3 linked regions of the Homo sapiens genome follow. The protein of the gene in region 3 purifies or fractionates together with the protein of the main gene of each other region. This does not show direct contact. Each region holds a gene or a part of one and is shown on either strand. Other genes may lie near its edges. The genes, in order: ITGA2, USP29 and CEACAM6.

Region 1 (3,653 bases), on a different chromosome or scaffold from region 3:
TTTGGACGGAATTTTGTTTCTGCTTGTGCTATTTGCAACTCACTTGATACAGAAGCATTCTTTTCATCTTTGCTGTTTGGCTCAAGCTCTAGACATGATGACATATTTTCCTTTTTGTTTTTGCTCAGAGAGCTATTGGATGATCTACAGATTCCATGCTCTTAGGGGCTGGAGTGATGTGGTAGAAGTTAGACAAACCTGCTGTCACTGGATTTCTTGGGAAAGTGCTGCAGTGTGCTATTCAGGGGTCATTGATCTGTGCTGGGAAGCTGTCCTATTGCTTCACCAGGTAGAGAACTCTGGTTCCCAGGCCTGTAGGAGGGCATCACCTGTGCCCAGTGCATCTGCACAACTGTGTTCCAGTTTGTCTGTGCCATGAACTCACCTTACTTCTAAGTGTGAGTTAAAGTGATATCGACCTATTAGAACCTGTGGAATTTGTGTGTTACCCACTTACCAAGACACCTGTCCCTCTGAACAATTAAAGACAGCCTGTATCAACCAGTGACATTTACACCACTGCTCTCAGGTTTGCTTGCTTTGGGCAGGTAAAAACAGGGAACAAAGCATTTCTTTATGGATAACATCCTTTGGAAAAAACCTCATTTCCACCTGGCTGGAAGAAAACCCTAATCTGATATGTGAGGAATTTTTCCCTCAGAAACTAGACTTGATCTAGTTCCAATATTTGAATATTCAAACAGTGACTAGATTCAATATTTATTGTGGACCTACTCTGTGCAAAACATTGTGCTTGGGGCTTCAATGTCCAGGAATGGGGATACTGCTTGAGATCTCACATACAATGGGAAGTAGGCAGTGAGAAGAAAGTGAAGACAACTCTCAGGACCTTTGAGAGTTCTGTTTCAACATTTTGAGAATGTTTGCAGCTACTCAGAGGGCCTGCAATGTGGAGTGTGCCTGTGATGTGTGGCTACGGGGATCTTTCTCTGCCTTTCTGGGCTACTCTCATTGGTTTAATAAGCCTAACGAGTCACTCAAGGTTTTCCTAGGGACCAATATGTCTGTGGACTCCTGTTTTAGTTGACAAGAATTTTAATTCAAATTCTTCAGTTAAGAATGAGCATACAGAGGACTTCTTTAGCCATGAGCCAAAAATCTTCTGATCTAGAGTTGGTGTCAGTGATAGCAGGTTACCCACTGCTTCACCTACCTTGTTAAGTGAATTTCAGCATCATACAGGAGAGGAATTTTGAGGTTGACCAAATTATCAGCCTTGTTTTCTTCTTGGCTTTCACTATAGAAAGAAACATTAGGAAATTACTTAAAGAGAAATACAAAGCTATCCATCATTCCATTCATGACTTCATTATGTTTTACCTTAAGGCTTGGAAACTGAGAGACGCCTGATTCTGAAGGTTTTGAAGATTGAAGTCAAAGTTAATAGTAAAAGTCACCTAAAGACAAAATTAAAATTTCTCAGTCTATGATGCTTCATACTCAGAGGCCAACGTGAAAAAAAAAATGTTTCTCATAAAAGTAAACTCACTCAAATTTGATTCTGAATTTTATATACCTTAAGCTTTCAAATTTGTGGAATATCTTTATTTGTCCACCTTGTTTTACTATGCCTCACATTAGAATTAGAGAAGCTTGACTTCCAAGTGACACATGTAAGTTATCCAGGCGTATATACCTGTCTGAATTTGGAAGCTTTGAGCTGATGTGAAACTTGTTACTAGGGGTTAATAAATGATCTCTGTGACTCTGTGTATAGTGCTTTGACCAATGTTGCTCAACATATTTAGACAAAAAGAACTTTCCATAGTATGTGTACCTTTTGGAATGAATTGCATGGAGAAAATCCCATTTTTATTAATAATTTAAAGAAAACATTTAGATATTGAAAACTTCCCCTAAGTATGCAGCTAGTTATTTTGTGATGCCTATCAAATCATGATAGCAAGATGTTATGTTGGTAAATTAGCATATGTGCTAAGGAGGGCTTGTATGGATTGGAGGATGAAATGCAAGTTGTACCTGTTGTTCTCTCTTTAAAGCAGGGTAGCCTACATCGCAGGCAACAGACTTCTGAGATGCAGCCACCTGGCATGTTACTTCTGTCCCATCAACCTGAACAAGACCAAGGAAACAACAATGATCAATTGGCATACAACATTTGTGTGTGTATGCACGCACCTGGTAAAAGAGGTACAGTGGCATTTTAGCAGTAAGGTTGGTTCATACTGAAATAATTTATTATACCTCAAGACTTGAAATTTTATACTGCCCAGGTGGCTAATATACTACTTTTATTGCTAACCCTAAAGATACCTAGAACATCCAACAAAACAAAGAAAAGATTAAATACTGTATTTTTTCCCCAGAAAAAAATGATAGTTTTTATTTTCAGATGCACGAATAGCTTTAATTCAATATTTTGAAATGCTGGCTTTAGGAATATGTTCTTCTCAATTTATTTGAAGCATTTTCAAGAGAAGAAAGTAAAATCATATGTTGGTGTTTGTCTGTATTTTAAGTAATTTGAGGGTTTTTTTTTTTTTTTTTTTTTTAGTTTTCTTCAGGTTTTTTTTTCCCTTTAAAGGAAGTAGTTGCCACTTGGCACAGGGTGTTTAAACACCAAGGTCAGGTTAGGTTTAGAACTCTAAGCCTATTAAGATCACATTAACTCTAAATTAAATGAAATCATTGTTTAATCCTTTAATCAGATAGCTCATTTGGAAAATCTCAGCTTTTCCTTCTCTCCCTTTTTTCTTCATAATTTGGTGGTAGAGGAGGGACCAGGGAGCACTCACAGTCAAGTGTGCTCCTGGTATAATGATCAAGTCAATGTGATTAGTTGGCTTTGCTGGCGTGCATCATCTTGGCAGCAGCAACAACCATAGTTGCAAAGCTCAGGCTAAGCTTTGGGACTCAAATGTCTCAGAGCAAGTGCACCACATCTGTGCAGAATGCAGCAGCCTCATCACACTGATAGCTCAAGAAGAGTTATGGGAGTGTCTGGCTACTGCTGCCAAGTCTCAGGATAAGGGAAAAACTGACCCAAGCTGTCAAGCAGAATCTAGATATAGAGCCAGACTATGTTCTCATGCAGTTTAACTAGTCGGAAGCCACAAAGTTCAGATTGATCATGTTGAGGGTTAAGGTGCTTCTTTAAACAACTCAGAGGACATAGAGAAGACAGTGATCTATAAGTAGGAAGCATGGTGGAAGTAAGTACAGGGTCTCATCACATACCGGCAGGGAGAATGATGCAAAAAACAAGTTTTCTGAAAAATCAACAACAATTCCAGTGTTGTATGCACTTTCCCTTTTATTTTTCAGCGTTACTGAAAATGTTAACCTTTTGTTTTGGTTGCTGACAATAAAGGGTTGTTCTCTGTTAAAAGTAAAAAGGAGGGGGGAAAAGCCATTACTGTTAAATAAAAAGGCCAGTATTTTAAAATTTCACTCATTAAAAAACTAAACTCTTTAGACTTACTTAGAATACTGAGAAAATTGCTGTGTAATAAACTATCTTTGCATCAAAATGATACTGACAACAAATAAGTAAATGCAATTGGATTGTTCTTTGTTGCTATTGTATTAGAGGGAATGGAACCATTTAAATACAGATAATTTTATATTTCTTATTGTTTTACTCCTATGTGGATGGTAGACATTGAAATTTA
Region 2 (3,653 bases), about 15 Mb from region 3:
TATTCAAGCTCTTCTTCTTTAAAGAAAAGATCTAAAGAATTCTGAATGGACAAAGGAAGTGGTTTTGTTTCTTGGTGCAGGTTGATGGAGAGATAATTATTAGGTTCTACCTTGAGAACAGCATGACCACAAGCTTTACAAATAAGGGAGAGCTGCAATTCAAACTCAAAATTAGCAACAACAGGGCAAACAAACACTTTGGTGGCAGCACTACCAACATGCATTTGTGGAGATGAATTTTCATCCCCACATTCTTTCCCAGTATTCAAAGTGGCATTTAATTTTTCCATGTCTTCTTTCAGCTGGTCTAAACACTGACCTAAAAACTCATGAGCATCATTCTGCATGTTGCCAGAAAATATTTCTGCAACTGCTGAAATGACTTTTTTAACATTCCCAAGTAATTCTCTCTTGATCTTTGTACTACAGAAATCTTTCAAAGCAAGCAGCTGGGTCAAGGTCATAATAAGAGCCTCAAAGGGAATATATTCCCATGGGACACCTTGAGTGAGTAAGTCATCAGCAAAAGATGGAATTGCAAATAGCGATTGTAAAACTGCATTCATGTAACAGGTGTTTCCCAAATTGGGGAACCCCTGCTGCAGTTGCTGTGAATGAGAGTCAAGAGGCACCTGGGCTTTGTTGCATCTTGGGTCACCCTGGCTGTGCTCTGGTTCCAATGGAGATGTCAAACCATTTTTGGCATTGAGAGTCTGGGTTGCAAGAACAGTCTCATCTAGGTTAGGATTTCCATTACAGTTGGTATTGAATGAAGGCCCGAGTTTCAAATCTCTATCTTTTTCTAAATCCTCTAAACTTGATGGGTTCTTCCTATTGCTTTGTATATATTTCAAGGAATCTGTCTTATATTTCTTGTTTGGTACAGGGTTATCTTCCTTCAGAATGTCCTCATTTGTCTGTACATCAGATGATAGTGTGTTTTGCCCCTTCCCACCTTGATTTTCTAATATCCCCTTTTTCACATGTGTTGGTGATTTTGACATAAACAAAGGCATCTTCTGATAACTTGGCTTGTTACAAATGCTGTAAAATGAAGTTTTGTCAATTTCCTTCAGCATATTCCTGCTTTCAAACACACTCCAATCATCATCAGATTTCATGGGTTGCTGAGATTTGTTTTGGTGGATTATGTCCAGGAACATATTCAACTGTTTAGCATCTCTGTAGGATAATTTGTCAATAAACAAGAACACGTTGTTTTTCAAAGTTAAACGCAGGTGACTTTGTCTTTTTTTACAATGTCTAAGGACCACACTTCTAATGTTGTTGCTCAGCTGAAAAATTCTTATAAATTTTCCAGATTTGAAAGTGACCACCAGTTTAATTTCCTTTTGTCTTTGCACTGTTTCAATGAGAGCTTCTTTCAGCTTAGTCATCCCAGTCTTCTGGCTCCAAATTTGGATGAATCCACATACCTTTAGAGATATCATCCTTTCTTTATGTAACCTAAAGAAGAAAAGCACACATGCATTTTAACCAAGAATATATTAACAGTTATATTTTATGAAAAACCTCATCCACATATAATAATGATTTATTTTTAGTCTTCTTATGCTCTAAGTAAAATACTCTTTTGGGGTGCTAATATTCTGAAGCTGTGCCAGTTCTCCAGAAGACATAGACTGAGGCACACGCATTTTCAAGGGAGCTGTTAGGCGAGAAAGAATATACAAATGGCCAACAGAGATATGAACAGGTGCTCAGCATCACTGCTCATCGAGAAAATACAAATTTGGTTGGGCATGGTGGCTCACGCCTGTAATCTTAGCACTCTGGGAGGCCAAGTGGAAGGATCACTTGAGCCCAGGAGTTCAAAACCAGCATGGCAAAATAGGGAGACCTCATCGCTACATAAAATTTTTTAAAATTAAAAAAGGGGCGGGGCCAAGATGGCCAAATAGGAACAGCTCCGCTCTGCAGCTCCCAGCGAGACCAATGCAGAAGGTGGGCGATTTCTGCATTTCCAACTGAGGTACCCAGTTCATCACATCGGGACTAGTTAGGCAGTGGGTGCAACCCATGGAGGGCGAGCAGAAGCAGGGTGGGGCATTGCCTCACCTGGGAAATGCAAGGAGCCAGGGACCTCCCTCCCCCAGCCAAGGGAAGCCGTGAAGAACTATGCTACTCGCCCGGTTACTACGCTTTTCCCACAGTTTTTGCAATCTGCAGATCAGGAGATTCCCTTGTGTGCCTACACCACCAGGGCCCTGGGTTTCAAGCACAAAACTAGCCAGCTGTTCGGGGAGACACCGAGCTAGTTGCAAGAGTTGATTTTTTTTTGTACACCAGTGGTGCCTGAAACCCCAGTGAGACAGAACCATTCACTCCCCTGGAAAGGGGGCTGAAGCCAGGGGGCCAAGTGATCTCACTCAGCAGGTCCCACTCCCATGGAGCCCAGCAAGCTAAGAACCACTGGCTTGAAATTCTCACTGCCAGTGCAGCAGTCTGAAGTTGACCTGGAATGATGGAACTTGGTTGGGGGAGGCGCATCCGTGATTAATGAGGCGTTAGTAGAGTTTTCCCTGGACAGTGCTAAGGAGGGTGGGAGGTTTGGACTGGGCAAAGTTCACCACAGCATGGCAAAGCAGCTGTGGCCAGACTGCTTCTCTAGATTCCTCCTCACTGGTCAGGGCATCTCTGAAGAAAGGGTAACAGTCCCAGTCAGGGGCTTACAGATAAAATTCCCATCTCCCTGGGACAGAGCACCTGGGGGAAGGGGTGGCTGTGGGCACACAGCTTCAGCAGATTTAATCTTTTCTGCCTGCTGGCTCTGAAGAGAGCAGCTGATCCTGATAAGAGGGATTTTCCCAGCACAGCACAACAGCTCTGCTAAGGGACAGGCTGCCTCCTCAAGTGGGTCCCTGACCCCCGTGCCTTCTAACTGGGAAAGAACTCCCAACAGGGGTTGAGAGACACCTCATGCAGGAGAGCTCTGGCTGGCATCAGGCTGGTGCCCCTCTGGGACAAATCTTCCAGAGGAAGGAACAGGCAGCACTCTTTGCTGTTCTGCAGCTCTGCAGCCTCCGCTGGGGATACCCAGGTGAAAAGGGTCTGGAGTGGACCTCCAGCAAACTGCAGCAGACCTGCAGAAGAGGGGCCTGACTGCTAGAAGAAAAACTAACAGAAAGCAACAACATCAACATCAACAAAAAAGACCCCCACACAATAACCCCATCCAAAGATCAACAGCCTCAAAGATCAAAGGTAGATAAATCCACAAAGATGAGGAAAAACCAGCACAACAACGCTGAAAAATCCAAAAAACAGAATGTCTCTTCTCCAAATGATCGCAACTCCTGTTCAGCAAGGACACAAAACTGGACAGAGAATGAGATTGATGAATTGATAGAACTAGGCTTCAGAAGGTGGGTAATAACAAACTCCTCTGAGCTAAAGGAGCATGTTCTAACCCAATGCAAGGAAGCTAAGAACCTTGATAAAAGGCTACAGGAATTGCTAACTAGAATAACCAGTTTAGAGAGGAACATAAATGACCTGATGGAGCTGAAAAACACAGCATGAGAACTTCGTGAAGCATACACAAGTATCAATAGCCAAATCAATCAAGCAGAATAAAGGACATCAGAGATTGAAGATCAACTTACTGAAATAAGGCGTGAAGACAAGATTAG
Region 3 (3,653 bases):
CAGGAGTTCGAGACCAGCCTTATCACCATGGAGAAACCCCGTCTCTACTAAAAATACAAAATTAGCCGGGCATGGTGACGCATGCCTGTAATCCCAGCTGTGCAGGGGGCTGAGGCAGGAGAATCGCTTGAACCCAGGAGGCAGAGGTTGCGGTGAGCCGAAATCACGCCATTGCACTTCAGCCTGGGCAACTAGTGAAACTCCATCTCAAAACAAAAACAAAAACAAAAAACAACCCCCCCACCAAACAAAACAAAACAAAAAACAATTGTCAGTGAATGACAAAGATTGAAAATGAGTATGGTTAAACATCTGATGAGAGTTCATTATGATAAGAATGCATCTCCCAGGTGAGGGGCGCCTCTGCCCGGCCGCCCCTACTGGGAAGTGAGGAGCCCCTCTGCCCGGCCAGCCGCCCCGTCCGGGAGGGAGGTGGGGGGGTCAGCCCCCCGCCCGGCCAGCCGCCCCGTCTGGGAGGTGAGGGGCGCCTCTGCCCGGCCGCCCCTACTGGGAAGTGAGGAGCCCCTCTGCCTGGCCACCACCCCGTCTGGGAGGTGTACCCAACAGCTCATTGAGAACGGGCCATGATGACAATGGCAGTTTTGTGGAATAGAAAAGGGGGAAAGGTGGGGAAAAGATTGAGAAATCGGATGGTTGCCGTGTCTGTGTAGAAAGAAGTAGACATGGGAGACTTTTCATTTTGTTCTGTACTAAGAAAAATTCTTCTGCCTTGGGATCCTGTTGAACTGTGACCTTACCCCCAAACTTGTGCTCTCTGAAACATGTGCTGTGTCCACTCAGGGTTAAATGGATTAAGGGCGGTACAAGATGTGCTTTGTTAAACAGATCCTTGAAGGCAGCATGCTCGTTAAGAGTCATCACCACTCCCTAATCTCAAGTACCCAGGGACACAAACACTGCGGAAGGCCGCAGGGTCCTCTGCCTAGGAAAACCAGAGACCTTTGTTCACTTGTTTCTTTGTTCACTTGTTTATCTGCTGACCTTCCCTCCACTATTGTCCTATGACCCTGCCAAATCCCCCTCTGCGAGAAACACCCAAGAATGATCAATAAAAAAAAATAAAAATAAATAAAAATAAAAATAAAAAAAGAATGCATCTCCCATAGACATTTAGTTACTTCTGTGGCATATGACATTATGGCTTATAATCTGTTAGATTTCTGGGAATCTCTTATAATTTTTGGAACACTCACATCAATAACATAACCATAAATATAACTTAGAGAAGGTTTAGCATCACTTATCATTTGACAGTGCTTCCCATATAATGTAACATATCAAATAAGGCGGCTTTTCCTTTTAGTTTCTGTTTCTCAGTTAGATTACTGAGTTCTTGGTGGAGCCCATTAATGAATTAGGCCAACAAAGTATAGGCCCATGTATGTTGAAAAAGCTCCAGAGGTAATTCTAATCCTCCTAGCTAAAAACCATGGGTTTAGCCCCAAGTCCTACCTATTAGAACAGGGATCCTCCATCGTGGCTACACATTAGTAGCGTCTGGAGAGGCTTAAAAATTACCAATGCCTGGGTCCCACTCCAGATCAGTAGATCAGAATTTATGGTTGGGGCTTGAGCATCCGTTTTTAAAAATGTTTCGGAGTGATTCCAATGTGTAGCTATATTTCCCATCAGATTTATCTGAATTTTTGTGGCATTCGCTCCTTTCTACTTTGGTATCATGATTATTTTTCAGGTCTTATCTCCTGTCTTGGGCTTTATGTTCCCTGGGGGTAGGGACCTTGCCTTCTTCATTTCTGTATCTGTTATGAACACATGAATTGATTGTCAGGAAAAGGTTCTCAGCCACATGCAGGATGTGTCCAAAGTTCACATATTAATACTACACAGTCTGTGTTCTCCATGAAATAAGAGGTTGCTTGTGATGAAGGGTGTGAGTAAGTCCACAGGGCAGGTAGTGGAGGGGAGATCACCCTGTTTTTAGGTGTAACATTGAAACTAAGAATTCTATGTGCATCCGGGGTAAAGGGGCAGGGATGTGTAGAGAGTCAGATTCTAATTAAGATGGAGGAATTATACTGGGAAGTAGAGGGAAAGAAAGTAAGAAGAATTAGTAAAGAGAAGAAATTTGAACTTAACTAGTAGGCCAGAGCAGGTTCCTTTGGCTTCTTTTTTTTTTTTTTTTTTTTGAGACGGAGTCTTGCACTGTCGCCCAGGCTGGAGTGCAGTGGCACGATCTCGGCTCACTGCAAGCTCCACCTCCCAGGTTCACGCCATTCTCCTGCCTCAGCCTCCCGAGTAGCTGGGACTACAGGTGCTCGCCACCATGCCTGAATAATTTTTTGTATTTTTACTAGAGACGGGGTTTCACTGTGTTATCCAGGATGGTCTGTATCTCCTGACCTCATGATCCGCCCACCTCGGCCTCCCAAGGGGCTGGGATTACAGGCATAAGCCACTGTGCCTGGCCCCCTTTGGCTCCTTAAGTAGGTGAGTGAACTAGATTTTAGGAAGGTAATGAGGCAGTCATATGCAAGAAGGATTCCAACCTTACAACAAGGGGTCAAGCAGGATGTTGAACAATTATTGAGGTTGATGGGAATGGAGAGACTGACAAAAGTGAGAGATGTTGAAAAAGGACGAAGAGGCTTTGACAATGTATTGACTCTAGGAAACAAATGAGCAGAGGCTGGGGATAATTATATCTAGGAGACAGTGGGGTACAGGGAGCATGAAGACCAGGGAAGAAGAGACCTGCAGGAATTAGTGCTGAGAAGCAGGAGTTTAGCGGTAGAAGGAGATCCAGTCCCAGATACAGGTGAAGAAGTTTTTTTCCTTTCCCAAGCATGGTGGTCAGCCCTGCAGGAAACATGGCAAGAGGAAAGGCGATCATACCTGCCAGTCTTCCTGAAATATCGAAAATACACCAGGGCTGCTATATCAGAGCCACCCTGGCCAGCACTCCAATCGTGATGCCGACGGTGGCCACAGCTGAGAGGACAGGAGCACTTCCTTGTGGGAAGAAGAGAGAAGGAATGAAGGTGATGTTATTCTACAGTGGGGTCCCCAAGAACTAGCTGTCAACATGAAGTAGGCTTGACTTGTTCCTTCAAGGAATACACTAGTTTTGTGGGAAAGTTGCAATTTTTTTTCTCTCTTACCACGTTTCTAGGTTGGTGATCAGTCTTCTGTCAATTTCATCCTGTTCTTTCTGCACTCAGACATTTTTGAAGGCTTTGAAAATTTGAGAAAGTCTGATTGCTATTTTTGCATGTCATTAGAACTTTCTATATTTTTATGTTTGCATCTTTTTCTCAGTGTCTCAATTGTGGCAGCCATGAATAAGAGCCTGTTGGAGCTCTATGGCAGGGACTTGATGGACAGAAGGCCCAGGCTAGTGCATTCTGAATTTACTATGTTCTTTGCACAGAGAACTCACTTCCCATGGGCTCCCACCAGGGGAAAGAAAGCAAGCCCAGGTCTGTGAGACCCTGCTTCACTCTCATGGGTGAGGGGTTCAAGGACTCCCCATCGGTCTTGGGGAAACTCAGAACTGCACTGCTATGTAAAACTTCCCTCCTTCTCTTTCTCCTTCTCAGGAATGAGATCTGCATCGTGGTCTGAGGGCTCTCTTAGGCTCTCCTGTCACTGCTGCTCCACCTTCCCTCATGGCT

What was found.
Region 1: the proteins of CEACAM6 (region 3) and ITGA2 purify together in Homo sapiens (affinity purification with western blotting, with the first as the bait; one study listed by BioGRID). This does not show direct contact.
Region 2: the proteins of CEACAM6 (region 3) and USP29 purify together in Homo sapiens (affinity purification with western blotting, with the first as the bait; one study listed by BioGRID). This does not show direct contact.

Annotation. Positions count from the first base shown.
Region 1 is NC_000005.10:53,072,826-53,076,478, reverse strand, and holds part of ITGA2 (integrin alpha-2 precursor), read right to left. Parts: intron 3,362-3,653; coding exon 3,220-3,361; intron 2,095-3,219; coding exon 2,002-2,094; intron 1,419-2,001; coding exon 1,342-1,418; intron 1,259-1,341; coding exon 1,175-1,258; intron 1-1,174. UniProt on the Homo sapiens protein: Integrin alpha-2/beta-1 is a receptor for laminin, collagen, collagen C-propeptides, fibronectin and E-cadherin. It recognizes the proline-hydroxylated sequence G-F-P-G-E-R in collagen.
Region 2 is NC_000019.10:57,126,474-57,130,126, reverse strand, and holds part of USP29 (ubiquitin carboxyl-terminal hydrolase 29), read right to left. Parts: intron 1,468-3,653; 5' UTR 1,452-1,467; coding exon 1-1,451.
Region 3 is NC_000019.10:41,765,521-41,769,173, reverse strand, and holds part of CEACAM6 (cell adhesion molecule CEACAM6 preproprotein), read right to left. Parts: intron 2,992-3,653; coding exon 2,915-2,991; 3' UTR 2,875-2,914; intron 1-2,874. UniProt on the Homo sapiens protein: Cell surface glycoprotein that plays a role in cell adhesion and tumor progression. Intercellular adhesion occurs in a calcium- and fibronectin-independent manner.